7 linked regions of the Homo sapiens genome follow. The protein of the gene in region 1 purifies or fractionates together with the protein of each later gene. This does not show direct contact. Each region holds a gene or a part of one and is shown in the gene's direction. Other genes may lie near its edges. The genes, in order: MCM10, NCBP3, MCMBP, FBXO11, GINS1, EMC8 and MCM4.

What was found.
Region 2: the proteins of MCM10 (region 1) and NCBP3 purify together in Homo sapiens (pull-down; one large-scale study listed by IntAct). This does not show direct contact.
Region 3: the proteins of MCM10 (region 1) and MCMBP purify together in Homo sapiens (affinity purification with mass spectrometry; 3 studies listed by BioGRID and IntAct, with this or other methods). This does not show direct contact.
Region 4: the proteins of MCM10 (region 1) and FBXO11 purify together in Homo sapiens (co-immunoprecipitation; one large-scale study listed by IntAct). This does not show direct contact.
Region 5: the proteins of MCM10 (region 1) and GINS1 purify together in Homo sapiens (co-immunoprecipitation; one study listed by IntAct). This does not show direct contact.
Region 6: the proteins of MCM10 (region 1) and EMC8 purify together in Homo sapiens (affinity purification with mass spectrometry; one large-scale study listed by BioGRID and IntAct). This does not show direct contact.
Region 7: the proteins of MCM10 (region 1) and MCM4 purify together in Homo sapiens (affinity purification with mass spectrometry; 3 studies listed by BioGRID and IntAct, with this or other methods). This does not show direct contact.

The regions. Positions count from the first base shown.
Region 1 is NC_000010.11:13,192,090-13,196,348, forward strand, and holds part of MCM10 (protein MCM10 homolog), read left to right. Parts: intron 1-165; coding exon 166-276; intron 277-361; coding exon 362-479; intron 480-2,951; coding exon 2,952-3,180; intron 3,181-4,259. UniProt on the Homo sapiens protein: Acts as a replication initiation factor that brings together the MCM2-7 helicase and the DNA polymerase alpha/primase complex in order to initiate DNA replication. Additionally, plays a role in preventing DNA damage during replication.
Region 2 is NC_000017.11:3,839,316-3,843,574, reverse strand, and holds part of NCBP3 (nuclear cap-binding protein subunit 3), read left to right. Parts: intron 1-423; coding exon 424-489; intron 490-3,369; coding exon 3,370-3,475; intron 3,476-4,259. UniProt on the Homo sapiens protein: Associates with NCBP1/CBP80 to form an alternative cap-binding complex (CBC) which plays a key role in mRNA export. NCBP3 serves as adapter protein linking the capped RNAs (m7GpppG-capped RNA) to NCBP1/CBP80.
Region 3 is NC_000010.11:119,837,987-119,842,245, reverse strand, and holds part of MCMBP (mini-chromosome maintenance complex-binding protein), read left to right. Parts: intron 1-1,285; coding exon 1,286-1,403; intron 1,404-3,545; coding exon 3,546-3,711; intron 3,712-4,259. UniProt on the Homo sapiens protein: Associated component of the MCM complex that acts as a regulator of DNA replication.
Region 4 is NC_000002.12:47,826,023-47,830,281, reverse strand, and holds part of FBXO11 (F-box only protein 11), read left to right. Parts: intron 1-4,259. UniProt on the Homo sapiens protein: Substrate recognition component of a SCF (SKP1-CUL1-F-box protein) E3 ubiquitin-protein ligase complex which mediates the ubiquitination and subsequent proteasomal degradation of target proteins, such as DTL/CDT2, BCL6, SNAI1 and PRDM1/BLIMP1.
Region 5 is NC_000020.11:25,413,928-25,418,186, forward strand, and holds part of GINS1 (DNA replication complex GINS protein PSF1), read left to right. Parts: intron 1-3,176; coding exon 3,177-3,275; intron 3,276-4,177; coding exon 4,178-4,259. UniProt on the Homo sapiens protein: Required for correct functioning of the GINS complex, a complex that plays an essential role in the initiation of DNA replication, and progression of DNA replication forks.
Region 6 is NC_000016.10:85,782,545-85,786,044, reverse strand, and holds part of EMC8 (ER membrane protein complex subunit 8), read left to right. Parts: intron 1-3,500. UniProt on the Homo sapiens protein: Part of the endoplasmic reticulum membrane protein complex (EMC) that enables the energy-independent insertion into endoplasmic reticulum membranes of newly synthesized membrane proteins.
Region 7 is NC_000008.11:47,966,780-47,970,940, forward strand, and holds part of MCM4 (DNA replication licensing factor MCM4), read left to right. Parts: intron 1-585; coding exon 586-706; intron 707-3,018; coding exon 3,019-3,278; intron 3,279-3,731; coding exon 3,732-4,097; intron 4,098-4,161. UniProt on the Homo sapiens protein: Acts as a component of the MCM2-7 complex (MCM complex) which is the replicative helicase essential for 'once per cell cycle' DNA replication initiation and elongation in eukaryotic cells.

The DNA.
Region 1 (4,259 bases):
AGTCTGATGATAGAGGTTAAGGATTCTTTTCTTTCCTCTTGGGATTCCGTCTTCTTCGTTTACGTATGACTAAAATTACAAGTGCAGAGTTTAGAAAGTGGTATGTCATATGACCTCAAACCATCTGAATGTGAATCCTCTAAAGCTGGTGTTGACCTGGCACAGGAATACCCCAGAAGAGCCTGTCTTGCTCTGAGGAGTTCAAGGAACTGATGGACCTGCCGACGTGTGGAGCCAGGAACTTAAAACAACATTTAGCCAAAGCCACAGCTTCAGGTACCATCAGCTGCATGGCCACACGTGTGTCCCTGTGTTCCCTCAGCCTCCCAGGGCACCCCCTCAGTCTGGGCTTCTGTTTCAGGGATTATGGGGAGCCCAAAACCAGCCATCAAGTCCATCTCGGCCTCAGCACTCTTGAAGCAACAGAAGCAGCGGATGTTGGAGATGAGGAGAAGGAAATCAGAAGAAATACAGAAGCGGTAAGAGGAGCAGATTTAATATTCCCCGCTTGGGTCATCCATCTCAGGCGTCCTCAGAACGTCTTCATCGATTTCCAGAATGTGACTTCAGGTTTCGGTTGGCTGCGTTTTAACTCTGAAAGTTTAAAATAGTTTTCCCATAACCTGAATAGCATTTAAGGCTGTATTATTTCTTACACTGGTGACTCCCAACACCAAATGGTACAGGTTAGAGTCGTTATCACCATGGAAAAGGGAAAGGAGTGAAGTGTATGTAAAGAGGGTTTTTGTGAAGGGGGAGAGCGTAGGTTCACATGCTGGCTGTCATTTTCTCTCTCTCTCTCTTTTTTTTTTCTGAGACGGGTTTTCACTCTGTCACCCCAGCTGAAGTGCAATGCTGCAGTGTCGGCTCACTGCAACCTCCATGTCCCAGGCTCAAATGATCCTCCTGCCTTGGCCTCCCAAGTAGTTGGGACTACAGGCATGTGCCACTATGCTTGGCTAATTTTTGTATTTTTTTATAGAGACTGGGTTTTGCCATATTGCCCAAGCTGGTCTCAAATTCCTGGACGCAAGCCTGGATTTGCCTGGCTGCCATTTCTGGGTTTTGCCGCAATTCAGTTTTTTATGACAGGCAGAGCCAGTGAGTAGAATACAGTTCTTTGGATAAAGGACAAAACTGAAGCACTAAAAATGGAGAGTCATTTTAGAGGCAAAAGCAAGTGGAAATGTGTTACTTGGCTTCAGCCAATAATTAAAAAAAAAAAAAATCAAGTGGAAATGCATAGGGTAGGTGGACAAATGAATGATTCCTGAACTCAGGTCACCTGAATACTAATGAGAGCTGCGGTTCACAGGCACTTCATACGTACTCCATAAACACAGTATCTGAGCCTCCGGAGGCTTCTCAGCCTTGTTTTACTAATAGTGTGCCTGGAGATCAGAGAGCTAGTTTATGGTGGGGCCGAGTTTTGGGCTCACACATGTTGTGCTCTGGTGCTGAACCTTTTGCCATCCCGAATCTGGGCTGCTGAAAGGCAACCACATCCATGAAAGGGAGTCAATGATAAGACAAGAGGAAATTCTTTGGGAAAGTAAGAGAATGGGTTTGGTCTCAGGCAGATTAGTTTGAAGTGCCGGTGGGATATCTATAGAGCTATTCATCTTGAGCCTACAGATGACATAAATTATATACGTGGACACAGAAATATGTATGGAGTTGGGGGCCTCGTGGGAAATAGAGAATGCCCATCAGCTTGAAGGCATTGCGTAATGAAAATTTTCAGAATTTTGTTGGCCAAGGAAACCTTATCTTTGCGTAGGATTTGATAGGCAGTTTGCAAACACAGCCTAGAGCTTGCAAGAGTGGCTGTGCGGTTGGGAAGAGTACTGCTCTGGGATGGCCTGGCTCTAATCCTGAGTCTGGCCCTTGTGAGTAATGTGATCCTAGGCCTCAGTTTCTTCATCGATCAAATGAGAAGTTTGGACTAGATGATTTCTGGGGTTTGTTATTTGTTTTTAAATATCTCTTATGAGGCTGGCTTGGTGGCTTATGTCTGTAATCCTAGCACTTTGGGAGGCCGAGGCAGGCAGATCGCCTGAGCCCAGGAGTTTGAGACCAACCTGAGCAAAATGGCGAAATCCTGTCTCTACAAACAGTACAAAGATTAGCTGGGCATGGTGGTGCACACTGTGGACCCAGCTACTCGGGAGGCTGAGGTGGGAGGATCACCTGAGCCTGGGAGGCAGAGGTGGCAGCGAGCCGCAATCGTGCCAACGCACTCTAGTCTGGGTGACAAAGCAAGACCCTGTCTCCAAAAACAAAAGTAAAATAGCTCTTAAAACTATTTTTTGCCAGGCATGATAGCTCACGCCTATAATCCCAACACTTGGGAGGCTGAGGCACGAGAATCACTTGAACCTGGGAGGCAGAGGTTGCAGTGAGCCAAGATCATGCCACTGCACTCCAGCCTGGGTGACACAGCGAGACTCTGTCTCAAAAAAATCAAAAAAAAGAAAGGGGATGTAAAATAATCGCTGCAAGTTACAGTGTTTTTCATTAATGACTTCCAAATGTCTCACATGTATTGTCTCTTCCCAGTAGCATAAACAAAGATGCAGGGAGGTGCAATGAGTTCCTACAGGCCCTAGAGCTGACGGTAGGGGTGGGAATACAGTTCACACCGCGTCTTCAGCTGTGTTCCTTGTGGATGACATCCACTGGACAGCCAATTGATAAAAACAGTTATCAGTTCTAAAGTGTTAGGACAATTACAGCTTATTCAAAGAAAACTCAATTAAGGAGGAGTTAGTAAAGCTAGTATTGTTCTTATCGTGTGCAAATTTGAATTACCAGCCTAGAAGGGGACATTATTTTGCTAACAACTAGCTCCCAACTGGTGGCCTGCCTGCCGCCTCCCAGTCCACTTTGAGTTCTAGAGTTTTTATTTTCGTAAACCCTGTTTGCGTATTTTGACTGTATGTTCTTTAAAGATTTCTGCAGAGCTCAAGTGAAGTTGAGAGCCCAGCTGTGCCATCTTCATCAAGACAGCCCCCTGCTCAGCCTCCACGGACAGGATCCGAGTTCCCCAGGCTGGAGGGAGCCCCGGCCACAATGACGCCCAAGCTGGGGCGAGGTGTCTTGGAAGGAGATGATGTTCTCTTTTATGATGAGTCACCACCACCAAGACCAAAACTGAGTGCTTTAGCAGAAGCCAAAAAGGTAACTGGCATCTCTTCTCTTTAGCACTTGAGTTTGCATTCTGTAGAGCAGAGCTGGAGGAAAGACAGACACCTAATAGCTCTTTATTGATCGTGATCATTAGAGTCAGTGTAATTTGAAAACATGGTAGTGTCAACATAATACTAAAAGAAAGTTAGATCTGTTATCTCAACACTTTTTCTTGTCAGGCTACAAGAGGTAGCCTAGAGGAAGATAGTGTTTTATAACCAGAGGCATTGACAGTAGGAAAACAATGCTTGGAATTGTTGAGGTGAGACTGTAAAATGGTGGTTTAAGGAATCCTTTTTTTACGTTTATTTATTTATTTATTTATTTATTTATTTATTTATTTATTTTTTGAGAAGGAGTCTCACTCTGTCACCCAGACTGGAGTGCAGTGGCGCAATCTCGGCTCACTGCAACCTCCTCCTCCCAGATTCAAGCGATTGTCCTGCTTCAGCCTCCCGAGTACCTGGGACTACAGGCGCCTACCACCACGCCCGGCTAATTTTTAGTAGAGACATGGTTTCACCATGTTGGCCAGGCTGGTCTCGAACTCCTGACCTCAAATGATCTGTCCACCTCGGCCTCCCAAAGTACTAGGATTATAGGTGTGAGCCACCATGCCTGGCGGTTTTATTTTTTATTTGTTGAGACAGACTATCCCCCTGTCACCCATGCTAGAGTGCAGTGGTGCAATTATGGTTCACTGCAGCCTCAACCTCCCAGGATCGATTCATCCACCTGCCTCAGCCTCCCAAGTAGTAGCTGGGACTGCAGGCACATGCCACCACGCCTTGGCTAATTTTTGTATTTTTTGTAGAGATGGGGGCCTCCCTTTGCTGCCCAAGCTGGTCTTGCACTCCTGGACTCAAGCAGTCCCACCTCAGCCTCCCAAAGTGCTGGGACTACAGGCATGAGCCACTGTGCCTAACCAAGAATCCTTTAAAAGAAATCTTACACAAAAGTCCAGTCCCATGACAGGTGAAAGCTGAGTTGCTGCGGCTGAAGTAGGGGTAGGGCACCCAGAGCCCCACCTGCCCACTTCCTGAGTGCCCCAATCGAGCCTCTCTCTTCCC
Region 2 (4,259 bases), on another chromosome or scaffold:
GACTCCATCTCAAAAAACAAACAGAAAAACAGAAAGAACCAGACTGGTTGTGATGACTCACACATGTGATCCTAACACTTTGGGAGACTGAGGCAGGAGGACTGCTTTAGCCCAGGAGTTGGTGACCAGCCTGGGCAACATAGGGAGACCCTGTCTCTACAAAATAAAAAAAAAATTAGCTGGGCATGGTGGCATATGCCTGAGGGCCCAGCTGAGGGGGAGGATGGCGTGAGCCTGGGGAGTCGAGGCTGCGGTGAGCTGTGATCATTCTACTGCACTCCGGCCTGGGCAACAGAGCAAGACACTGTCACCAACAAAAAAAAAAAAAAAAGGAAAAAAGAACCTGCAGATGTCAGGCCGACTTTTATTATAGGTTTTTCCTCAATTGCTGTCTGAATTTCTCACCCTTCCCCTTTGTGTTAGGACACGAGCAGAAGATATGAAAACAAGGCTGGCAGCTTCATCACTGGAATTGATGTCACCTCCAAGGTAAGACAGGCTATGATTTATTTATTCAGCTTGATAAGCAAGTGAACTTAATGAATTTGATCCCTAGGACATAACAGTAAATATTTCCTCTTTTATTTTGTTGCTGGATTTAAATTTTTTTTCTAAAAAAAATTGTGTTATTGGCCAGGCACGCTGGCTCATGCCTGTAATCCTAGCATTTTGAGAGGCCAAGCAAGTGGATCGTTTAAGCCCAGGAGTTCGAGACCAGCCTGGGCAACATAGTGAGACCCGTCTCTACGAAAGATACAAAAATTAGTCGGGTGTGGTAGCACAGGTCTGTAGTCCCAACTACTCAAGAGGCTGAGGTGGGAGGATCGCTGGAGCCTGAGAGGTTGAGGCTGCACTGAGCTGAAATCGTGCCACTGCACTCCAGTGGGGGCAACAAAAAAAAATTTTGTGTTATACAACGATGTCTTCATGCATCCTGAAACGGTACAGGCAGCATTTGTGTGTTCTTACAGCCATGAAAGGATAAAATCACTCTACTTAGATACCTGTGTTGAACCGTTTCCAAGAAAATGTCCAAGACGGGGGATGCTTTTTTAAATGGTATGTCCATTTCTAAAAAAATGTGTACTGTTTCCACTTGAAATGAAACAAAACATGAAAAGTGCCTGGCAGATGGTAGGCCCCCCATATTTAGGTGGAGTCTCGCTCCGTTGCCCAGGCTGGAGTGCAGTGGTGCGATCTCGGCTCACTGCAGCCTCCACCTCCTGGGTTCCAGCGATTCTTCTGCCTCAGCCTCCTGAGTAGGTAGGACTACAGGCGCCCGCCACCACGCCTGGCTAATTTTTGTAATTTTAGTAGAGACAGGGTTTCATTGTATTGGTCAGGCTGGTCTTGAATTCCTGACTTCAGGTGATCCACCTGCCTCAGCCTCCCGAAGTGCTGGGATTCCAGGTGTAAGCCACCGTGTCGGCATAATAGGCCCTTAATAAGACTATTGCCTTGTATCTGATGATTGCTATTACCAGATTACCACCTTCATTGTAACACCTCATAGAGTCAAGCCTATTATTTTCCTTATATGTAGTCAATACATGTAAGTTGCTTTAATCAGTGATGTTCCGTTTTAGACATTTTTTCTGATTTTAATGTTTACAGTTAAGTTTGGAACAGAATTTTGTATTACATTTCTGAATAATAGTATATATTGCTGTATTGAATACATAAAAGCAAAAATAAAAATATATTTCGTGCCTTCCTTTTTATAGTGTTTTTTTTTTTTTTTTGAGACAGAGTCTCACTCTGTCACCCAGGCTGGAGTTCAGGGGTGCGATCACGGCTCACTGCAACCTCTGCCTCCTGGATTCAATTGATCCCTCTGCCTCAGCCTCCCGAGTAGCTGGGACTACAGGTGGATGCTATCATGCCCAGCTAACCTTTTTATGGTTTATCTGTGTCTCTTGTGTTTCCAATCACTTAAAGGCCCCCCATCCCCGCAAAAAAAAAAAAAAAAAAAGAGAGAGAATTGGTCATCTTTTAGACAAGAAAAGAGAATAAAGTGAAAATCTTTTCTTACTGTAATTGAAAAAGTAAACTATTCATAATCTTACACTGTTTGCCATTATATGACACAGGTATATGGGAAAAGGGTGATAGTCTCAGAGTTAGTACTTTGTTTCTAAAGGAAGGTAAATTGTTGTTTGTACTAGGAAGACTTCAGTGAAGAAAATGAGCGTTAACTATTGGGAAAGAACAGAAGTGTTGCAACTTTACCAATCCCCACAAGCTCTCTGTAGTCAGACCTTCAATTAGTGTGGCAAAGTCAATATACAATTAGTGAAGGGGACTGGGCGCGGTGGCTCACATCTGTAATCCTGGCACTTTGGGAGGCCGAGGCAGGCAGATCACGAGGTCAAGAGATCGAGACCATCCTGGCCAACATGGTGAAACCCCGTCTCTACTAAAAATACAAAAATTAGCTGGGCGTGGTGGTGTGCACCTGCAGTCCCAGCTACTCAGGAGGCTAAGGCAGGAGAATCTCTTGAACCCGGGAGGCGGAGGTTGCTGTGAGCTGAGATCGTGGCAGCCTGGCGACAGAGTGAGAGTCCGTCTCAAAAACAAAAACAAACAAAACCAATTAGTGAAGGGTTCCTAAGAGCCATCAGAAACCCACAGTTGGACCTGGGTTTATTTTAGCTCTTAGAAGAAACTTACAAAGCTGATTATTTTTTCAGTAAAGTGTCAATGGTTCTTATCACTTAGAGATGAAAACTGGTGATTCCGTGGACACGAGGCTGGAAGAGGAGGGAGAGTTTCTTTGCTTCGGTGTTATTTTTAAACAGACTAGCTTTAGGGAGTGGACTGCTCAGGCAGTTATAATGTGGAAGAGCGTGATAGGTGTGATTACCATTGCTCAGACAATGTGAAGTGGTTGTAGGTGGGCTCCTAGAAATAGCACTGGAATCAGATCTGCTTGCTTAATAGCTGAAGTATCTCCAGCAAACCTTTTTGCTTTTTTGTGCCTCCATTTCTGCACCTGGAAAATTGGGATGTTGAAATTGTTTAGTTGTAATTTGTTGGCATAATTGATAATAACAAATGAAGTGTCATATAACTTTATAAACTTTAAAGGACTATTCATTCAGTCAGCAGATACTCACTGAGTTCCTACTATGTCCCAGGCACAGTGATAGGCTGTGTTATGTCGGAGATGGTTGCAAATTACAGCGATATTAACATATCCCCCCAGTCATTGAGTGTGAATATCCAGGTCTCTGCCAGACTGATTCAAGGTGTAGTGTTGCTTATTTCTTCTTTTTTAGTTCAGGTTTGTCACTGATGCATCATGATGCATGTGTGATTTAACTCGCCTTCTCCATATTTTACTACTTTCACTTTTTCTGTACTTTCTAGGAAGCAATTGAAAAGAAAGAGCAGCGAGCCAAGCGCTTCCATTTTCGATCGGAAGTAAATCTTGCCCAAAGAAATGTAGCCTTGGACCGAGACATGATGAAGAAAGGTACAGGGTGTTTTGTGGGAAATTTGTCCACATTTCCCCAGAGAGTGCCTTTTCCCTGCCATCACCTCATGCTTCTGGCCTTGCCTTGCGTGTCCACTCCTTATCCAAGCACTCTTGTGAGAAGGGACCTGTGAAGTCTCCATTTCTGAGGTCACCTGTTTAAAGTTCAGATGCTGTCAGCTGGCTCAGATGTTAGAGCTGGGAAATAAGAGATTGTCTTTTCTGAGGAGGCCCAGAAAAAGTTACCAGTTAGTGGCAGAGCTGAGATTCGAACCTGTGCTTCTAAGGACCCTTACTCATTTTCTCCTTTTATCGTAGAGGTGTTAACTTTTCTTTGCCTTTAAACGTAGTGAAAGTGTATCACAGTGAGACCTTCTTTTCGGGGAGTTAGAGCAATTTTGAGATTGGTGGGGAAAAGCCATTAACACTTTTGTTGATAATCTGAATCTATTGGCCAGGTGTGGTGGCTCATGCCTGTAATCCCAGCACTTTGGGAGGCCAAGGCAGGTGGATCACTTGAGGTCAGGAGTTTGAGACCAACCTGGCCAACATGGTGAAACCCCATCTCTACTAAAACTACAAAAATCAGCTGGGAGTGATGGCTGGCGCCTGTAATCTCAGCTACTCGGGAGGCTGAGGCGTGAGAATCGCTTGAACCTGGGAGGCAGAGGTTGCCGTGATCCGAGATTGCACCACTGCACTCCAGCCTGGGCGACAGAGCGAGACTCTGTCTTAAAAAAAAAAATTCTGAATCTATTGATAATCTGAATATCTGATATATGTA
Region 3 (4,259 bases), about 110 Mb from region 1:
TAAAGCAGTGGTCCCCAACCTTTTAGGCACCAAGGACCCATTTCATGGAAGACCATTTTTCCATGGACCGGAGTGGGGATGGTTTCAGTATGAAACCGTTCCACCTCAGAACATCAGGCATTAGTTAGATTCTCATAGGGAACACACAGATGTGCAGTTCACAATAGGGTTCGCGCTCCTGTGAGAGTCTGATGCCACTGCTGATCTGACAGGAGGCGGAACTCAGGCGGTAATGCCCACTCATCCACCCCTCACCTCCTATGTTGTGGCCCGGTTCCTAACAGGCCATGAACCAGTACTGGTCCACGGCCTGGGCGTTGGGGACCCCTGAGATAAAGGACCTGGCTGATGAGTAAAATGAGCTGTTTTATCCCTTTTGCATTCTGAACGCTCTGTTTATACATCCCAAGGCGCCCACGTCATGTGCACGTTTAACGTGGACATTGACACTAGCACCGCATCCCTTGACTCCACTGTATTTCTTTGTTTCTCATTTTAAAACTAGTGTGGGCCTTTGACAAGTTCCAAGAACATAAGGAGGAAAATGCACATCATCTGTAATTTCACCACTTAGAACCTCCGTTAACCTTTAGGTACATGTTCATTGGTTTTTGTTTACATATGTATACATCCTTGCATAGGTCTTAGTTACACTCTAAGCACAGATGCGTGTCTTGTTTTCAGCAGTTGATATATATTAAACATTTTCCCATCATAATGCTTCATGAACTTTGTAGTGGCTGCAAAGTATTTCACTATGCAGTTGTACCATACTGTAACCATTTCCCTAAATGTTAGCTTTTCCTAGCTTTTCTCTATTATAAAGTTGCAGGAAACATCTTTGTGCTGTAAATCTTATCTTTTCTCAAATCAGTCTGTGACAGTAGTACATAATGGTTGAGAGCACAGGCTCTGGAACCAAACTACCCGGATTCATATCCCAGCTCTGTCAGCTTCCATTTAGATGAACATGTTGCTTATTATCATCTCTGTGCCTCGGATTTCTCATCTGTGAAGCAAAGACAACAGCACCTACCGCTGAATGGTTAGGGGTTAAATGAGGAAGCATTTACATACTCAGAACGGTCTTTGGCACGTGACCAGCAGCACTTACGTACAAATATTGGCTATTACTTTTATTGCTGTTATTCTGATAAAATAACTGGTCAGAATATTCTGGTTTATTTTTAATGACAATATTAAGCTAATTTTTCTATTCTTCGCTATTTGATAGAAATCAGGAAGTCACTTCAGCATCTTATTGATTGATTTCTTTCTTTTCTAGATATACAAGAAGAGATGTCCTTCCACTAGGAAAATTTACAGTTAACTTGAGTGGTTGCCCACGGAATAGTACCTTCACAGAACACTTGTATCGAATTATTCAACATCTTGTTCCAGCAGTAAGATGAATATAAATATGTATTATAAACCTAAGCACACTTAAAAAATCCATCTAACTGTCTTTCATTCACTTCAAATATTTAACTTAGAGATTTTAATAGATCTTATTTAAGGGGAAACAAAGCCTGCCAAATTACATAATTTAAAATGTACGTTCCCCTAAACATTTCACTTTTTTTTGTCTTTTTGCCTAAGCACAAATTTCTGTAAGTCTAACAAAACAATTGTAGTAACTCCCTTAAAATTACACTCTCTTGATACCAATTTGTCCAATTTGGTATCCTTTTTGTACACTAAAGTCTTAAATCTAAATAAACTCTAAATTGTAGGAGCATAATTCTTTTAGTTGAGGTAATAAAGTTCTTTATCTCCATTGCCTCAATTTTAATTCCTGTTTGGAAAGTTGAGCTCACTTTATTTGCCAGGGTATCTGGAATGCAGTATTTGCGTGGTGGTAGGATCTTGGGAACAGGGGAATTGCTTCTGATTAGTTGTGTGACTGAAAATACTGATCACTTCTTTGGAAATTGAAGAGGGTGCACTAGATCTTTATTGAACCGAATGTATTCAGTGTCTCAGTGCTAACACTCGTCCAGGCCCTCAAGAAGCAGAAGTGGACTGGAATATACCAGCAGTTCTCAGTCTCCTTAGACTCACTTTACACTCTGAAAAATGTGTTCATACTCAAAGAGCTGTTTTTCACGTTATGATTATATTTATCATTAATTTACCAAACTAGAAGATAAAGTAAATACACCTATTAAAAATAAAAAATTACATATAAATATTTTTATAAAAACAACTTTTCCCAAGCCAAAAATGATTAGTGATAAAGGTGACATTGTTTTACATTCTTGCAAATCTCTTCAATGTCTGGATTAATAGGAGACAATGGATGCTTGTATCTGCTTCTGCCTTCAGTCTATTGTAGTCTCAGGTTTTGGTTGAAGTATATGAAGGAAAGCTGGCCTCACACAGATGGAAAAGTAGATGGTAAAGGAAGGATGGTTTCGATAGCCTTTGCAGATAACTGGGTGGTGGTCTTTGATACTAGACCAAAACTGTCCACATGAGATTTTCTTAAAGATAGTTAAGTGTGGAATCTGAAATCCTATTCGTAAACTTTCCATAGTCTGCTATGGTAAAATTCATTAGTCTCGCACATTGAAAGGATCTTTTATCCATGCATGATTTTGACCTGATTGACCCTGTAAAAGGGTTTAAGCAATTCCCTGGGGGTTCTCGGGACCACATTTTGAGAATTATTGAAACAGATCCTTTGCCCTCACAGAGTTTAGGTAGAAGACCAACAAATAAATTAATACATGGTAGGTCATTTAAGCACCCCTAAGCTCCCCGTTTTCTTAGAATCACTGAGGTAATACACAAAACTCCTCTAAATTTTCGCAATATATCTTACCTCTTCCTTGACAGCCTTCCCCCACCATACCCTCTTCTCCATCCCTGCCACATTGTTTGAGGCTGGAGGGATGGAAGAATGGATTGGTGTATAAGGCAGAGCACAGAGGGTGTTGGGAATGGTGGCTCAAGAGCTGGAGGAGGAGCATAGATGGTTCGCTTACTCGTTAAACACTGAGTGAGAAGGTGCTCGCGTCCTGGAGGCACCTCCTGAGAGCTGCAGGTCCATCCACAGCTCAGTGTGCTCTGCTCCTTGATTTTTCTCTGAAAAGTTTGTTCAAAAATGTCTATGATAAATGAATACAATTTTAACTCAAAGAATATAGAGGAAAATTAAGCTTTTCTCTCCCTGTCTTGAAGAGTAAAATTAACATTTTCTTTTTGCTAGCTAGCTTGTGTTAGGTGAAAGAGGTTAGGTTTTGGGGTATTTAATATTTATATGTCAGTTATCTACCATTTGTTTCATTGGTTAAATTAAAATTGATTTTCAAGAATATTGAACAAGACATTTGAGAATAAAGTAGCTCATAAAATGGATGAAATTCAAATGTAAGATCTAGATACTATTTTTGCTTCTGGAGTTCAAGAAACCATATCACTACTCCCTTAGAAATTTATAAGATCACTTTTTCCATATGAAACACAATGTTTAATTCCAAGTACATATTTTCTTAAAACAGGGAAACTTAAATTCTTGTTCACTAAAAAATTTCTCTTTGCAGTCTTTTCGTCTGCAGATGACTATAGAGAACATGAACCATTTGAAATTCATTCCCCACAAAGACTACACAGCCAATCGCTTGGTCAGTGGGCTCCTCCAGCTGCCCAGCAATACTTCCCTTGTAATCGATGAGACTCTCCTGGAACAGGGGCAGCTGGATACCCCAGGTACGTACATAGATGTTTCTCTTCCATTTCTGACTTCCTTCGCACTAAAGCCAGATCTAGGAATAACTTTTAGAAGAGTATCTATGGACAAATTCACATTTAACAACGTAAGATAAAGGCTTGGCATATGAATTTGATTAAAGCATATGTTATAAACTAATTATATACACCAACTATGTTTTGCCATAGTATTCTGAAAGTAGTACAATGGAACAGATATATATCTTATATAATATATCTTATATAATATATATCATATATAATATATAATGTCTCATTTAATATATATCATATATTATATATTTTATATATTATATAATGGAGCAATAATATAAAGGGTAGTATTAGTATAATGGAGCAGTAATATAAAGGGTAGTATTAGATGTTGAGGGTCGTAAGGGTTCTTTGGTGAAAAGTTTTATTGTGTCAGCGAATGGTTGGAGCAGTCTTTATGGGCCTACAGTGTTGGGTTCTTTTGCGTAGTTGTATATAACCTAAAATTTTTTTTTCAGTGAGTGTAAGGAATGGTAGAGACAGGGTCTCGCTAT
Region 4 (4,259 bases), on another chromosome or scaffold:
GATTCTGTAGACATTTTTCTATTGTAGCATTGAGCATGGCTGAGAACTCTGAGATCACATTGGGTTTTTTTCTTTCTTCTTTGCTTGAAAGATTGCTCTTCTACCTCAGTATCCATATTTTGGCTTTTGCTGATGTATTGTTTTACTATTTTTCTGTTCCATATGTTCCTTTCTTTAGAAACTTAGCTATCTTTCTGGTTATTTATATTGCTATGTTCTGTTCTGTTTAGTGTTGTGTGAGTTCCTCAAATCTGTGTTCCTTACCATGTCTCCGTGGTTTTGTTTTTCTGCTGCTATTTTGCTTCCAGTGTGGGTGTTGCCTTTAATTTTTACATTTTTTTAATGAAATATTTCTAACGTACACTGAAGTAGAGAGAATAGTGTAATGACTCTCCAGGTACCTATTGTCTGCCTTCAACAACTATCATTTCATGGCCAATTTTGTTTAATGTATACCTCATACGTTTTACTACCTTTTTTACACTCTGGATTATTTTGAAGTAAATACCAGACTTCATCATCTCTTGTAAATATTTTACCATGTGTCTTTAAAAGATGGGTGTTTTTTTTTTCTTTCACATAACCACAGTGCTAATCCACTCCTCAATAATTAGGAATAATTCCTTAATATCATCAAATTTTCTCTTAATGTTCACAGTTCTCCAATTGTCTTTTGTTTGTTTAATACTCAGTTCAGTGCAGAGTTGTTACTTTTGTAAAATAAGATTAAAATGTCATAGCAGGCCAGGTGTGGTGGCTCATGCCTATAATCCTAGCACTTTGGGAGGCCGAGCAGGCAGATCACCTGAGGTCAGGAATTCGAGAACAGCCTGGCCAACATGGTGAAACCCTGTCTCTACTAGAAATACATAAATTAGCCGGGTGTGTTGGTGCACGCCTCAAGTCCCAGCTACTCGAGAGGCTAAGGCAAGAGAATCGCTTGAATCCAGGAGGCAGAGGTTGCAGTGAGCCGAGATCGCGCCACTGCACTCCAGCCTGGGCGACAGAGCAAGACTCTGTCTCAAAAAATAAATAAATAAATAAATAAAATGTCATAGCAGTGCCAAATAACTATAAAATTTTTTGAGGCCGGGTGCAGTGGGTCACGCCTGTAATCCTAACACTTTGGGAGGACAAGGTAGGCAGATCCCTTGAGCCCAGGAGTTCAAGACCAGCCTGGCCAACACTGCGAAACACTGCCTCGTGGTGGCGTGTGCCTGTAATCCCAGCCTCTCAGGAGGTTGAGGCATGAGAATCACTTGAAGTGGGGAGGTGGGAGGTGGAGGTTGCAGTGACCCAAGATCATGCCACTGCACTCCAGCCTGGGCGACAGAGGAGTGAGACTCTGTCAAAAAAATAAAAAAATTCATGGCATATTCATGCCATTAGATTTCATCACTTTAGTTAGAAGATAATAATAAGCTAAGCTTATTATAGCCTTTAGTTACTTGGGGACAACTACACTTCATTGAAAGTCTAAGGTACTAACATTGGTTAGTTCCCAGCACCCTCCTCTTTCTTACCCAGATTTCACAGTATTTGGTAAGTGTTTTTATAGATTAGAGTTGTGGAAGTTTATTTCTATGAAGATAGCATTTTTCTCTCTTTTTTAATCTGGAGAGTTTCTTGTGAAACTCTTGAATGCCTTTTATTTTGTCTTTTTTTTTTTTTTGAGACAAGAGTCTCACTCTGTCACCCAGGCTGGAGTGCAGTGGTGCAATCGCGGCTCACTGCAACCTCCACCTTCCAGGCTTCAAGCAATTCTTGTGTCTCAGTCTCCCGAGTAGGTGGGAGTACAGATGCCTGCCAGCACGCACAGCTAACTTTTGTGTTTTTAGTACAGACAGGGTTTTACCATGTTGGCCAGGCTGGTCTAGAACTCCTGACTTCAAGAGCTCCACCGCGCCTGGCCTACTTTGTCATATTTAATAAAGAATGTTTTACTTCAAAAAATTTATACATGTTGGAACTTTTGTGGTTTGCATTAAAAGACAAAGCAGAGGCTGGGCACAGTGGCTCACACCTGTAATCCCAGCACTTCGGGAGGTTGAGGCAGGAGGACTGCATGAACCCAGGAGTTCAAGATCAACCTGAGCAAGACAGACCCTATCTCTACTAAAGAAATATTCTAAAAATTAGCTGGGCATGGTGGCACACGCCTATAATCCTAGCTACTTGGAAGGCTGAGGCAAGAGGATTGATTGAGCCCAGAAGTTCAAGGTTGTAATGACCTGTGATAGCTCCAGCTTGGGTGACAGGGAGATTCCCGTCTTCTTAAAAAATTTTTTTCAGCCGGGCTTGGTAGCTCTGTAATCGCAGCACTTTGGGAGGCTGAGGCAGGTGGATCACTTGAGGCCAGGAGTTCGAGACCAGCCTGGCTAACTTGGCAAAACCCCGTCTCTACTAAAAATACAATAATTAGCTGGGCATGGTGGCACCCACCTGTAATCCCAGCTACTTTGGAGGCTGAGGCACGAAAATTGCTTGAACCTGGGATTTGGAGGTTGCAATGAACCAAGATCATACCACTGCGCTCCAGCCTAGGAGACAGTGAAACTCCACCTCAAAAAAAAAAAAAAATCTAATTTCTTACAGTTCTGTATTATTGATTTATTTTGTACTAGAGGTATTGCTTAACAAAATAGTTGCATTCTATTAAAATACGTCTTGAAGCAGGCCGGGTTCAGTGGCTCATGCCTATAATCCCAGCACTTCGGGAAGCCGAGGCGAGCAGATCACTTGAGGTCAGGAGTTCCAGACCATCCTGGCCAACATAGTGAAACCCCATCTCTACTAAAAATACAAAAATTAGCTGGGCGTGGTGGCTCACACCAAAAGTCCCAGCTCCTCGGGAGGCTGAGGCAGGAGAATCACTTGAACCCAGGAGGTAGAGGTTGCAGTGAGCCGAAAGTGCGCCACTGCGCTCCAGCCTGGGCGACAGACACTCTGTCTCAAAAACAAAAACAAACAAACAAAAAAATCTTGAAGCAAAATTACATTAACTGAATCCATAATAAAAATAAGTTTTCTTGCAAAATTATAAAACTATAAGTCAATCAATCTTTGTCATTTCTAAAGGTAGTAAAATCATTGTTGTGCCAATGTAGAGGCTTCTCATTTTAAGGTCGTTGAGAAAAGAAAACTTTTTGCTGCTTTATTTTCTTGAAAGTTACTCTGAAACAAAAGATACAGATTATAAACTCCATATTTGATGGAATTAGGTGACATATTTAATCCTTAACCTAATTTATTAATACAATGTGGTAAATGACTGCATGCCTGTGACCAGGGCAGCCAACCAGATTGGAGCAGGTTAAAGCTCCAATAAAGCTGTTCAGAAAGATAAATTGGTAAACCTAATGTAAATGTAAATGTATTAAGAGGTGATTTATAGGAGATGATGCAGGAGAATCGCTTGAACTTGGGAGGCAGAGGTTGCAGTGAGCCAAGATTGGGCCACTGCACTCCATCCTGGGCAACAGAGTGAGACTCTGTGTCAAAAAAATAAATAAAAAGAAGAGGTGATTTGGACAACTAGCAACAAGTTTAGGATAGAGTTGTCACTAGAAAGCTAAGCAAAGGAGAAAAAAATCCAAAAAATTGTGCAGCAAAGAAGTCATATTTTATGGCTCAACTCTGAATAGCACACTAATCTAACCAAAATTAAGGTTAAACTACACTGAAAGGATACAATGTGTGAGTATATATTGTGGGGGATAGAGAGGTAGGAGAGCTAAATTCTGCTGTCCCATAATAGAAGTCAGTGGATAATACCTAAAACTGGAAAGTGAAGACTAAGTACAGTGAGTTACTTAATAAAATAGATGTGAATCAAAAGAATCAGCTAAAAGAATTAAAAGTGGGGCCCTCTGGATAAAGGAAATGAGGGAGAGGGCTGCTATTTGCCTTAAAAAACTTGTGGATCAGCTGGGCGCGGTGGCTCACACCTGTAATCCCAGCACTTTGGGAGGCCGAGGCGGGTGGATCACGAGGTTAGGAGATCGAGACCATCCTGGCTGACATGGTGAAACCCTGTCTCTACTAAAAATACAAAAAATTAGCTGGGCATGGTGGCGGCACCTGTAGTCCCAGCTACTCGGGAGGCTAAGGCAGGAGAATGGCGTGAACCCGGGACATGGAGGTTGCAGTGAGCCGAGATCGTGCCACTGCACTCAAGCCTGGGTGACAAAGTGAGACTCCGTCTCAAAAAAAACCAAAAAAACTTGTGGATGTACTTGAGTCTCTTAACTCTGTAAAAT
Region 5 (4,259 bases), on another chromosome or scaffold:
ACGCCTGTAATCCCAGCACTTTGGGAGGCTGAGGCGGGCGGATTACGAGGTCAGGAGTTTGAGATCAGCTTGGCCAACATGGTGAAACCTTGTCTCTACTAAAAATACAAAAATTAACCGGGTGTGGTAGTGGGTGCCTGTAATCCCAGCTACTCAGGAGGCTGAGGCAGGAGAACTGTTTGTACCCGGGAGGTGGAGGTTGCAGTGAGCTGAGATTGCACCACTTCACTCCAGCCTGGCGATAGGGCAAGACTCTGTCTCCAAAAAAAAAAAAAAAAAAAAAAAGATGTTGAAATCAGATAACCTTGCATTAGTTTTGGGATGCGATTTTTAAAAATTATCTGTAAAATTATCTGCTCTAGCTGTACAAATTAGCAAAAGTCTGAAGAAATTTGTGCTGATCACTGCTTAATAAATATCTGTTGTTTGGCTGATAAGAGTTGAAAGGAATTAGAGTGGACCTAAAATAAATGACATACCCTAAAATAAAAAATAAAAATAGGCTGGACACGGTGGCTCATGGCTATAAATCCCTGTGCTTTGGGAGGCCAAGGCAAAAGGATCAGTTGAGGCCAGGAGCCTGGACATATAGCAGGACTCTGTCTCTATTAAAAAAATAAAAATTAGCTGGGTGTGGTGGCACACACCTGGAGTCTTAGCTACTCAGCAGGGTAAGGTGAGAGGCTTGCTTGAGTGCAGGGGTTTGAGGCTGCAGTGAGCTATGATCACGTTACTGCACCCTAGCCTGGGTGACAGAAGGAGATCTCCATCTTTAAAAATAATAAATAAAAATAAAAACCTAACAAAGTGAAATACATGGTTCCCACTGTTTATATTTTTATCAACAGTTGCCTTAGTGAGTTTGTTAAAGGAAGAATAGGCAGTTTATTAAATGGATATAAATAGGAGCAGCAGTGATTTCTGATAGTTTGAGTGGAGTTCTCTGAGAACTAGCTATAAAAGGTTTCAGTGTAGTAGGTCCAGAGAGGTGACTAGATTTATTGACTCTTTAGAACTGAGCATGGTAGCTGGCACAGTGGAGAATTTGGGCGTATGACAAACTTCGTATGTTCCTGTGCGACACCAAAGGGAGTCAAGTACTGGATCAAAGTTGAAGTATTCAGGGTCTCAACTGTCTGTGACATGAGGTTTCCTCTTTGGGCTTGTTCGCTACAGTGTTTTTATCAGTTACTTGAATATAGAAATCAGTGTTATGGCTGGTAAGATTTGTGAGGCACATAAAATGATAGGAGCATTTCCAACTCCTGTGTATAAGGAGAGATACAGAAAAATCTTTACAGGTGGACTGAGGAAGTGAACCTCAACAGATTTGCAGTAAATATAAGGCAGATTTAAAGTCCTGAACTCAAGTCCCTAAGCCATTCATTGATTTACTCAAATATGTACTAAACAAATATGTATCAATAAGTGGCTGTGCTATTTCAGTGGTAAACAACAGTCAAGATGGCTTTCCCGGGCTGGGCACAGTGTGGCCCATGCCTGTAGTCCCAGCACTTTGGGAGGCCGAGGCGGGTGGATCATCTGAGGTCAGGAGCTCGAGACCAGCCTGACCAACATGGTGAAACCCTGTCTACGAAAAATACAAAATTAGCCATGCGTGGTGGCGCATGCCTGTAATCCCAGCTACTCCGGAGGTTGAGGCAGGAGAATCGCTTGAACCTGGGAGGCGGAGGTTGTGGTGAGTCGAGATCGCGTCATTGCACTCCAGCTTGGGCAACAATAGCGAAACTCCATCTCAAAAAAAAAAAAAAAAAAAAGATGCCTGTCCCTGGCGCTCACTGTCTAGTGCAGAAGACAGACATGAAATATAGATATGCCAAATTGGGATTCATGCTATGAAGGAAATCAGAAGAGTGCAAGGAGAAAGAAAAATGAATAGAAGGTCTAGCTTAAATTGAGGAATCAGGGAACTTCTCTCCAAAGAGGAGACATTTCAGCTGAGGCCTGCAGGAGATGCAAGTCTTAGGGAGGCAGTGACTGTGGGCATAGAACATTCTAGGTGGAGGGAACAGCATATGCAAAAGCCCCTGAATCATGGAAGAGAATGGGGCACTCAAGAAACTGACACTTAAAGAAGACCTATGTGGCTGGAGTTTGGCAAGTGGCAAAGGATGACACCAGATGAGGTGTAAGTGTGGACAGGTGGTGGTGTGTTTGTGTCTTAAAAGATAATGCTGGTTGCTGTGTGGAGGGGCTGAGAGGTGGGGGAAGCTGGTCACCAGGTTACTAGAGAGGTGACCCAGACTTGGTAGAAAGTGAGAAGGTTATAAATGTTTTGGAGGAGACCCTATAGGCCTTGGTTCAGTAAGGGAATGATTTTCTTGTATTCTCTGTGTTTATGCCATTCGCAAATTCATGATCCAAAATTCTTTATTCCACCTTCCTAGTTTCATCAGACTTTCATAGGGTGGCAGAAGTATATAGAACAGCCCTAGAAGACATGACAGGATGGGACATGTATTTTGCCTGTATTATCAGGGCCTAGCACAGTGCCTGGCATAGAGGCAGGCACTACATGAATGAATTCTTTTTATATGCATATGGTTGCTTAAAAACTCCAAAGTAGATTCTTATTCATTCAAAAGTTACATGTACTTTTTATAGGGTAAAACCAAAATTTTCAGTGTGAGAAATACTGAAGTATAGTACGTACACGTATTTGGAGATCAACAGATATTTGTAAGATGAGTGAAAGACCATTTTGACTCCATTTTACCTCACTTTGTTATAATGAGGATTTGGAAGCTCCACTGGAAGGGAGGTACTATGTAGAATAGCGACATGACGTAAGACCATAACCTCATGTCCATCATGTTAGCTTTGTCTCTTATCTCAGCGTGATAATGGAATCCTGAAAAGTGAATAACACAGTGTCTTTTAGAAAGAATAGAGATTAATCAGTGTGCAAAAATGCAAAGTACCAAATGCCTAAACAAAATGTATCTGGTAGCATGATCTTAGGCAAGTTGTTTAGGTTTTGGCTTTTTAACATATTAATAAAAGCTCTGATGTACAAATAGTTATTATTTGCTTAGGTTAACTGCTAATCACAAATGGATTAAAAACAAGCATGTAACTCAGTTGTTAGTTGGCTTTGAAAATTTTACTTATCCTGAAAAGTACATATTTTTTTTCTTTTTAAATGCTCCTATCAGGAATGAAGCAAAGTCAGGTGGACGAAGTGATTTGATACCAACTATCAAATTTCGACACTGTTCTCTGTTAAGAAATCGACGCTGCACTGTAGCATACCTGTAAGCTTCTCAGTTTTTGCTTGGGGTGGCAGGATTTTCTGTGTGGCTTCCCAGTTGACCATCTCAAATGGGTAACATGAAATCTTAGATCTCTCTCTCTTTGTAAGCATTCTAAATTTTTCCTCTGTGTTTTCATTTTTTTAATTTTTTATTATGAAAAATCACAACACTTTTAAAAGTAGGGAGAATAATACTATAATGAACCCCAGTGGAGCTATCATATGGTTTTAACAATTTTTATTATTTTGCCATATTTTTTTCATCGTGTTTCACTTGTTGGTGCCACACTATTTAAGTGCATCACGGTCTTTCACTACTGAATACGGTAGTGTTCTTACTATTTTTTCTTTGTCTTAGAAATAAGGACCTTTGGCCAGGCACAGTGGCTCATGCCTATAATCCCAGCAATTTTGGAGGCCAAGGCGGGTGGATCATCTGGGATCAGGAGTTCGAGACCAGCCTGGCCAACATGGTGAAACCCTGTCTCTACTAAAAATACAAAAATTAGCTGGGAGTGGTAGCGGGTGCCTAATCTCAGCTACTTGGGAGGCTGAGGCAGGAGAATTGCTTGAATCTGGGAGCCAGAGGTTGTAGTGAACGGAGATCGTGCCATTGCACTCCAGGCTGGGTGACAAGAGCAAAACTCTGTCTCAAACAAAAAAAGGCGGGGGAAAGAAAGAAATAAGGACCTTAGGGACCTTTTTCCCAGGACTACTGTGCTGCTGTCACACGTGGAGGAGTGGACAGTGCCTTCAGGTCGACTCTCAGACTGTGTTCATGTTCTTCTTGTTTTCCCTAAGATGTCTGTTTAGAGCTGGTGTGTTTGCATCAGGGGCCAAATGAAGTCCACACGTGATCCCCCGTTTATTCTTATGCCACCCAATACCTTCTTGATGTCCTAGGTATGACCGCTTGCTTCGGATCAGAGCACTCAGATGGGAATATGGTAGCGTCTTGCCAAATGCATTACGATTTCACATGGCT
Region 6 (3,500 bases), on another chromosome or scaffold:
CTGTTCTAACGTAGTGTTTATAACTTTTATGAATTTCCTAAACTTTAGGTCATTCCATCAAGTTTTATTATATGATTCATTGTTGGCCAGTGTTTTGCTTCATAGTTAGCATTTGATATGAGTAGGTTTCGGTGCCCGGCAGAGAGCCCTGGCCTGAGGCAGACACTCAGGAGGAAGCTTTTAGATACACATTGTAAGATGGCACCTACACGCTGGCCCGACATGGTGCTGTTGAGGGTGAGCAGAGTGGTCTGCCTTCAGGGTGCCTGCAGTTTCAGTTGGCAGCTGGCTCTTCCTAGGAACAAGGAGTTCCTGACTAGCAGGAACCACAGCGTGGCAGTCTTCATTCAGGATCAAGTGGATCAGTATTGGAGATTCAGTGCCTAAGACAGAGAAATGCAAAGTTGGCAGCTGTTTCAAATACTTTGACAGTTCATTAACTACACATTTTTTTTTTGGCGGGGCGGTGGCAGAGCAGACAGAGTCTCACTCTGTCACCCAGGCTGGAGTGCAGTGGCACGATCTCGCCTCAATGCAACCTCCACCTCCTGGGTTCAAAGTATTCTGCTGTCTCAGGCTCCTGAGTAGCTGGAATTACAGGCACCTGCCACCACACCTGGCTAATTTTTGTATTTTTAGTAGAGACGGGGTTTCACCGTGTTGGCCAGGCTGGTCTCGAACTGCTGACCTCAAGTGATCCACCCACCTTAACCTCCCAAAGTGCTGGGATTACAGGCATGAGCCACCACACCCGGCCAACTACAAATTTTTAGACTTCTTTTAAAATAATAAATTTTAGGCCAGCCATGTTGGATCACACCTGTAATCCCAGCACTTTCAGAGGCCAAGGCAGGAGGATTTCTTGAGCCAGGTGTTCAAGACCAGTCTGGGCAACATAGCAAGACCTCATCTCTACAAAAAAATACAAAAATTAGCTGGACATGGTGGCCTACGCCTGTGGTCCCAGCTACAAGGGAGGCTGGGGTGGGAGATCACTTGAGCCTGGGCAGTTGGGGCTGCAGTGAGCCATGATCTCGCCACTGTACTCCAGCCTGGGCAACAGAGCAAGACCCCATCTCAAAAATCAGTGAATAGAAAGACAGATGTTAAGAGTTCTTGAGCATCTGCAATGGTAGTTTTTCTTTTTAATGAGTGTTTCCTTACCCTCTCCCCAATAAAAATCAACAACCAGCATGATCAGTGTTAAGTAGGAGGGTAAGGGCTTTGCAAGCTCTTCATGGCAAGCGGCCCTGCCTTTTGCTTTCCAAGTTCCTCAGCAAATGCAGGAGCAGGCAGAGGTGGGTACATGGGCAGGCCTCCTGAGGGCTCTGTACCCACTCTTCACCACTTGCCGTTAGTGCTGTGGGGACCTGGCGCCCACCGAGTCCTGGTCAGTGCAGTGAAGCACTGCCTTCCCTCTGCGCTAGGAGCCACCATCGCACTGCTTTCTTCAGTACGATTGGCTTCTACCTGAAAACCTCCCCTTCCCTCTTAAGTCATATTTTTCTTAACACAGTCACATTTTTAAGTCATATTTTTCTTAATACTGCAGATTTATAATCAGTACATCACTTTGTCAATTTTGAAAACGAAAATACAATAATCATATAAAATAATTTGTTTTTTAAAAACATTATTAATTTTTTTTAGCCTAATCACAAGGGAAGGATTGTAATTGTATATAGTGTGCTTTGTTAAATAACTCACAATAATGCATGTATTTTTATGGCTGTTAAAAGAAAGATGGGGCCAGGCGCGGTGGCTCACGCCTATATTCCCAGCACTTTGGGAGGCCATCGCGGGCAGATCACGAGGTCAGGAGATCGAGACCATCCTGGCTAACACGGTGAAACCCCATCTCTACTAAAAATACAAAAAATTAGCTGGGCGTGGTGGCGGGCGCCTGTAGTCCCAGCTACTTGGGAGGCTGAGGCAGGAGAATGGCGTGAACCCGGGAGGCAGAGCTTGCAGTGAGCCGAGATCGCGCCACTGCACTCCAGCCTAGGCGACAGAGTGAGACTCCATCTCAAAAAAAGAAAAAAAAAGAAAGATGGATGGCTTGGTCCCTGCCACAAAAAGCTGAAAGCCTTGATTGTGCAGGGCAGACAGGATGCACAGAAGGAAAGCAGCACGTGCCATGGACTCTGTGTTAGAGCCTCTTAGAAATAAATCCTCAGAACTCCAGCAGGGCAGGGGGTCTCATCCAGGGTTTAGCAGGGCTTTGTGGTGAGGGTGGCATGTCTTCTGGGCACTGAAAGAGGGGAAGCAATTCAGTAAGGAGGCCTTGGTGTGGAGGGCCAGACGGGACAGTGTGAGTGAAACAAGACGGGCATGTGAGGCAGATGACATGTAGGCAGATTTCCTGACATTGAAGACACAGCATTGCCCCTGTGGCTGCACACGGTAGCTCAGTTCACCGTAACGAAGGCCTGCCTCTGCCAGCCTGAGAATAGCAGCCTTCATCTTGCAGGCAGTGGTGAGCAGTAGTCTGTGGGGCTGTGAGCACCAGGGGACGTGATGGAAGTTCTGTTTTAGGAAAATTTAGTTCAGGAGAATTTTCAGGTTACATCGGATAAGAAGAGCCTAAGCTGAGCTTCGTAGCACGTGCCTGTGGTCCCAGCTGCTTGTGAGGCTGAGCAGGAAGGATTGATTGAGACCCGGAGTTTGTGGCCATGATCACACCTGTGAATAGCCACCATGCTCCAGCCTGGGCAACGAAGCGAGACTCTGTCTCTTTTTTTTTTGACGTGGAGTCTCACTGTTGCCCAGGCTGGAGTACAGTGGCATGATCTCAGCTCACTGCCACCCCCGCCTCCCGGGTTCAAGCGATTCTCCTGCCTCAGCCTCCGGAGTAGCTGGGTCTACAGATGTGCATCACCACACCCAGCTAGTTTTTATATTTTTAGTAGAGACAGGGTTTCACCATGTTGGCCAGGCTGGTCTCGAACTCCTGACCTCATCAGGTGATCCACCTGCCTCGGCCTCCGAAAGTGCAGGGATTACAGGCGTGAGCCACTGCACCCAGCCGACCCTGTCTCTTTAAAAAAGAGAGCGAGCGAGTGACCGTAGAAATTATGAGACCGGTTAGGAAGCAGTTTTAGAAGCCCCTGCCTAAGGTGAGAGACTGAAGGAAATAAATGACAGGGAGAATGCAGGAAAGGAGGGCAGAGAAAGGACCTGTGGCCTGCAGGGTGGGGAAGAGCAGAGGGAAAGGTGGCCTCAGGTCGGAGAGGCTGGAAATGGACTGGCCTGCCTGAGAGTGGTGGGTTCCCGCTGGGAGGCTTTTGAGGGGGTAGCAGTCTTGGGGCCATCAGGCAGTGGTCAGGAGACTTCCGGAGTGCTGCTCTGCAAGGGAATGGGTTAGATGGCAGATTGCACAGAGCTGTGGTGAGGACATGGAGCAAGACTAGCGGCTTGTTAAAGAAGTTGAAGAAACAGTCATGGAAGGGAGGAGGGAAGCTGGACAGCAGCTAGAGGGAACCGGTTCAATGCTTTTGTTT
Region 7 (4,161 bases), on another chromosome or scaffold:
GGTCTTTTTTCTCTATATTCATGAAATTTTAAGATGAAGTTATTAAAATGACAGAAAAAAGTGAGGGGAAGGTAGAAAATTGCTTATTTACCGTGATTGTGACTGTAAAGATGTGGGAGGACAGGATTTGAGTTTTTCTGTGACTGCGTGTGCATGGTTTCTTTAATGTTGCATGGGATGGAGAGCTGGAGACAGAAAGGCAGGCACCCTGCTCCGCAGGAGCACATGGCCTCCTATTCTCAGAATCATGCAGGCCCCCAAAGTGGCTTAGAGAAAAGCCCAGCATCCTTAGGCCTCTCAGAGGGTACCTGGTTTGGAAAGGCCTTCCTCGACCCTGCTTTATGAAAAGCATCTCAGCTTCCCCCACCGCAGCTCCCTACATTCCTTCCCCTGTTTTGTTGCTGTCTGTTGCAGCAACTTCTTTAGAAGAAGTAATTTCTAAGGAAATAATGAGAAACATGGACAATCATTTATGTGGGGATATGCACTGCAGCCTTATATGGCAAAAGCAGTACAAAGACATGCAGATTTTGTCCCCCTGCCCTCTCTTTGTGGCCCACATGTTCTCTGTTTGCTGACCTTCAGATCAAGCTTCAGGAGTCTCCGGAAGACATGCCTGCAGGGCAGACACCACACACAGTTATCCTGTTTGCTCACAATGATCTCGTTGACAAGGTCCAGCCTGGGGACAGAGTGAATGTTACAGGTAAGAGTGTAGGTTTGCACCAGCACTTGAGCATGTCTGGCTTGCTTTCAATGCTGTGCTTTAGTGAGTCATTGGACTTGGTCACAGGTCCAGTTCTACCTCCAGTTGTCACTGCTTGTCTTTGAGACTGTGGGGTATATCCCTGCTTTATCTGCCACCTTTTTAACTGAGTACCATGGCCCAGCAGTATGAAATTGTTCAGTTCTTCCCAAACTTGAATGTTGGAGCTCATGGTTCGTGTGGTCACTCGCCTCTTGATACCTCAGTATCCTGGAGCTGTGTGTGTCTCAAGTCAGTACTGTTGGCATCATGAGAGAGCAGCCTCAGACAGGCTTGTATGGGTAAAGTTTTGAGTTATGCCATCAGCTCAGAGAAGTATTACTCACCAATGCTGGAGTTTTAAGTAATTTTTACTTAATTTCCCAAATGTATAGCCAAGGGTTAACATTTGTTTGTTACAGAGAAAAATGAGTCAGTGACTTGTTTCCATGTGTAGAAGCTGAGGTTCAGGGATGCATAGACAGCAGTAGCTCAGATGCCACGGTAAATCAGAACCCAGGACCCAGGTCTCCTTCTCTTGCTGCCACAAGAGTGCTCTTTGCACAGCACCATATGAGTGTGGCAGTCCTCCTTTTGATGCTGTAGAGTCACAATGGATTTTGGTTGGGGGCAAGGGAGTGTTGATGGCAGCACGGTTCTTCATTGATGGGCAAGGTGGCGACGGTCGCGGAGTGCCTGAATCTGCTCCTGAGCGGAGGGCCTGGGGCACACCACGCATCGGCTCTTGTCTTCAGTGAGGCAGTGCTCACCCTGTTTCTTCCCCAGTGTGAAGTCCCGCAGTTATCACTGGCAATCTTCCGTCGTAAAAGTACTTGAAGTCATGGAGAATTTGAAAGAATGCGTAGTTTTTAGTGAGTGACGTGCGCATTTCCAGTCCTGCTACCCTGAAACCTTTGATAAAGTATTTAGTCCAATATTTTTGTTTCCTCACCTACAAAGTGGAGTTAATGTGATGATACATGTGTGAGAGTGTTTGGGGCCAAGGGGCTGTGGAAAGTGCTGTGTAGATGTGAAATAAGTATCAATGCTGCTCTGTGAGATAAATCATTCCGGGCCACTTTAAACATAATCTTCCATCCCTAGCCTATATTGGAGTGAAGAATAGTGTGTATTCTAAGAATGTGTGTAAACTGGTTTGTTGTGTTAAACAAGAATTACACTGACCCACTGAATAAACAAGGACAGTGCTCTGTGCCATTGCGTTGAGATAGCTGTAACGGGGAAAGGCCAGGCTTTCTCCAAAAGCTGCAGGAATCAGCCTGGAGTTAAAGCCTTCTGGTTTGAAATCCAGAAAAGACGAACATCAGATCAGACCTCTGTATGTGAGGAGCCTGGCTTCCAGAAGAATGCATGATTTGCATGCTTTTGTCGGGGGTGGTGGGTAGGTTGGGGGGACCTAGTCTAGTTTTAATGACTGGAGGATTTTAGCATTTTGTTGCAGTCAAGTAAGTGCTAGGCAGATTCTGTACACTCAACTTAGGGAAGTAAAAATACTGCTTATTAAAAACAACCACGAACCCAGCATTGAGCTAGAAGCACAGCAGCTCCATTTCACCCTCAGGGTGACTGTGCCCGTGGGCATGCTCACGTAGCTACAGTTGCCCTGGAGCACTGCTGACTAGTGGGCCCAGGTGAACACGTCCTCGGGTCTATCATTTGCAGAAACCTGGGTTCTTTCTCTTTTGTTTTGTTTTGTTTTGTTTTGTTTCATTTTGTTTTGTTTTGTTTTTGAGACGGAGTTTTGCTCTCGTCACCCAGGCTGGAGTCCAATGGCACCATCTTGGCTCACCGCAACCTCCGCCTCCCAGGTTCAAGCCATTCTCCTGCCTCAGCCTCCCGAGTAGCTGGGATTACAGGCATGTGCCACCACGCCCGGCTAATTTTTGTATTTTTAGTAGAGACAGGGTTCTCCTTGTTGATTAGGGTGGTCTCGAACTCCCAACCTCAGGTGATCCGCCTGCCTCAGCCTCCCAAAGTGCTAGGATTACAGACATGAGCCACCTTGGTTCTTTCGAGCTTGTCCGTTTCCTGCTGCTATTTCCCTGCTTGCTCATAGCAAGCGGGAGCTTTGCAATGTGGGCCTGAGTCCTGGGCTTGGGAGGGTCATTTAAGAGACGGTGGAGCTCACCCTTTCCAGGGCCAGCCCGACGTGGTGCCTCGCTCTGAAGTGCACCTGTTGCCTACGCTGGTTGCTGAGCCACTCGGAGGAAGATATGGGAAGGTAAAAGTGCATCTCCTGGTTGTGCCCTCAGGCATCTATCGAGCTGTGCCTATTCGAGTCAATCCAAGAGTGAGTAATGTGAAGTCTGTCTACAAAACCCACATTGATGTCATTCATTATCGGAAAACGGATGCAAAACGTCTGCATGGCCTTGATGAAGAAGCAGAACAGAAACTTTTTTCAGAGAAACGTGTGGAATTGCTTAAGGAACTTTCCAGGAAACCAGACATTTATGAGAGGCTTGCTTCAGCCTTGGCTCCAAGCATTTATGAACATGAAGATATAAAGAAGGTAACAGTGGATTTTAAACTAGGGGTTGGGATTTACAATTCTTTGGGATCAAATAGTATAAACATCCACTCCGCCACTCGAGCCATCCGCCATAAAGGACAGAGTTGTGGCCTGTTAGAGCAAGTGCTGGCAACCTGACTTGCCATTGGTTGAGAAGAATCATAGCATTGTCTATCCTCATCTCTGGTCTAAACTTAGGTTTCTAAACAGAAGAGGCCACACAGTGTCAGAATAGGGACTTGCATGGCCACCATTCTGGTGTAATGATAGGTGCTGATGAACTGGTCAGTGATAACTTAAAGCATATCAAGCACTTTCACGAGCCTTTTTATACCTTCCTGTGATTTCTTAATTGTAGTTCTTTATAAGAGAGAAAAGTACCTCTAAAGTTTAAACTACATCTCAGTTAACTGTGCAGAAAATGAATGTTTAGACATGTCTCTGATTATTTAGGGAATTTTGCTTCAGCTCTTTGGCGGGACAAGGAAGGATTTTAGTCACACTGGAAGGGGCAAATTTCGGGCTGAGATCAACATCTTGCTGTGTGGCGACCCTGGTACCAGCAAGTCCCAGCTGCTGCAGTACGTGTACAACCTCGTCCCCAGGGGCCAGTACACGTCTGGGAAGGGCTCCAGTGCAGTTGGCCTCACTGCGTACGTAATGAAAGACCCTGAGACAAGGCAGCTGGTCCTGCAGACAGGTGCTCTTGTCCTGAGTGACAACGGCATCTGCTGTATCGATGAGTTCGACAAGATGAATGAAAGTACAAGATCGGTATTGCATGAAGTCATGGAACAGCAGACTCTGTCCATTGCAAAGGTGAGTCGCCTTCTCCACCGTGAACATGGACGTGTTTAAAATATGTGGACCCTTGAAAGACAGG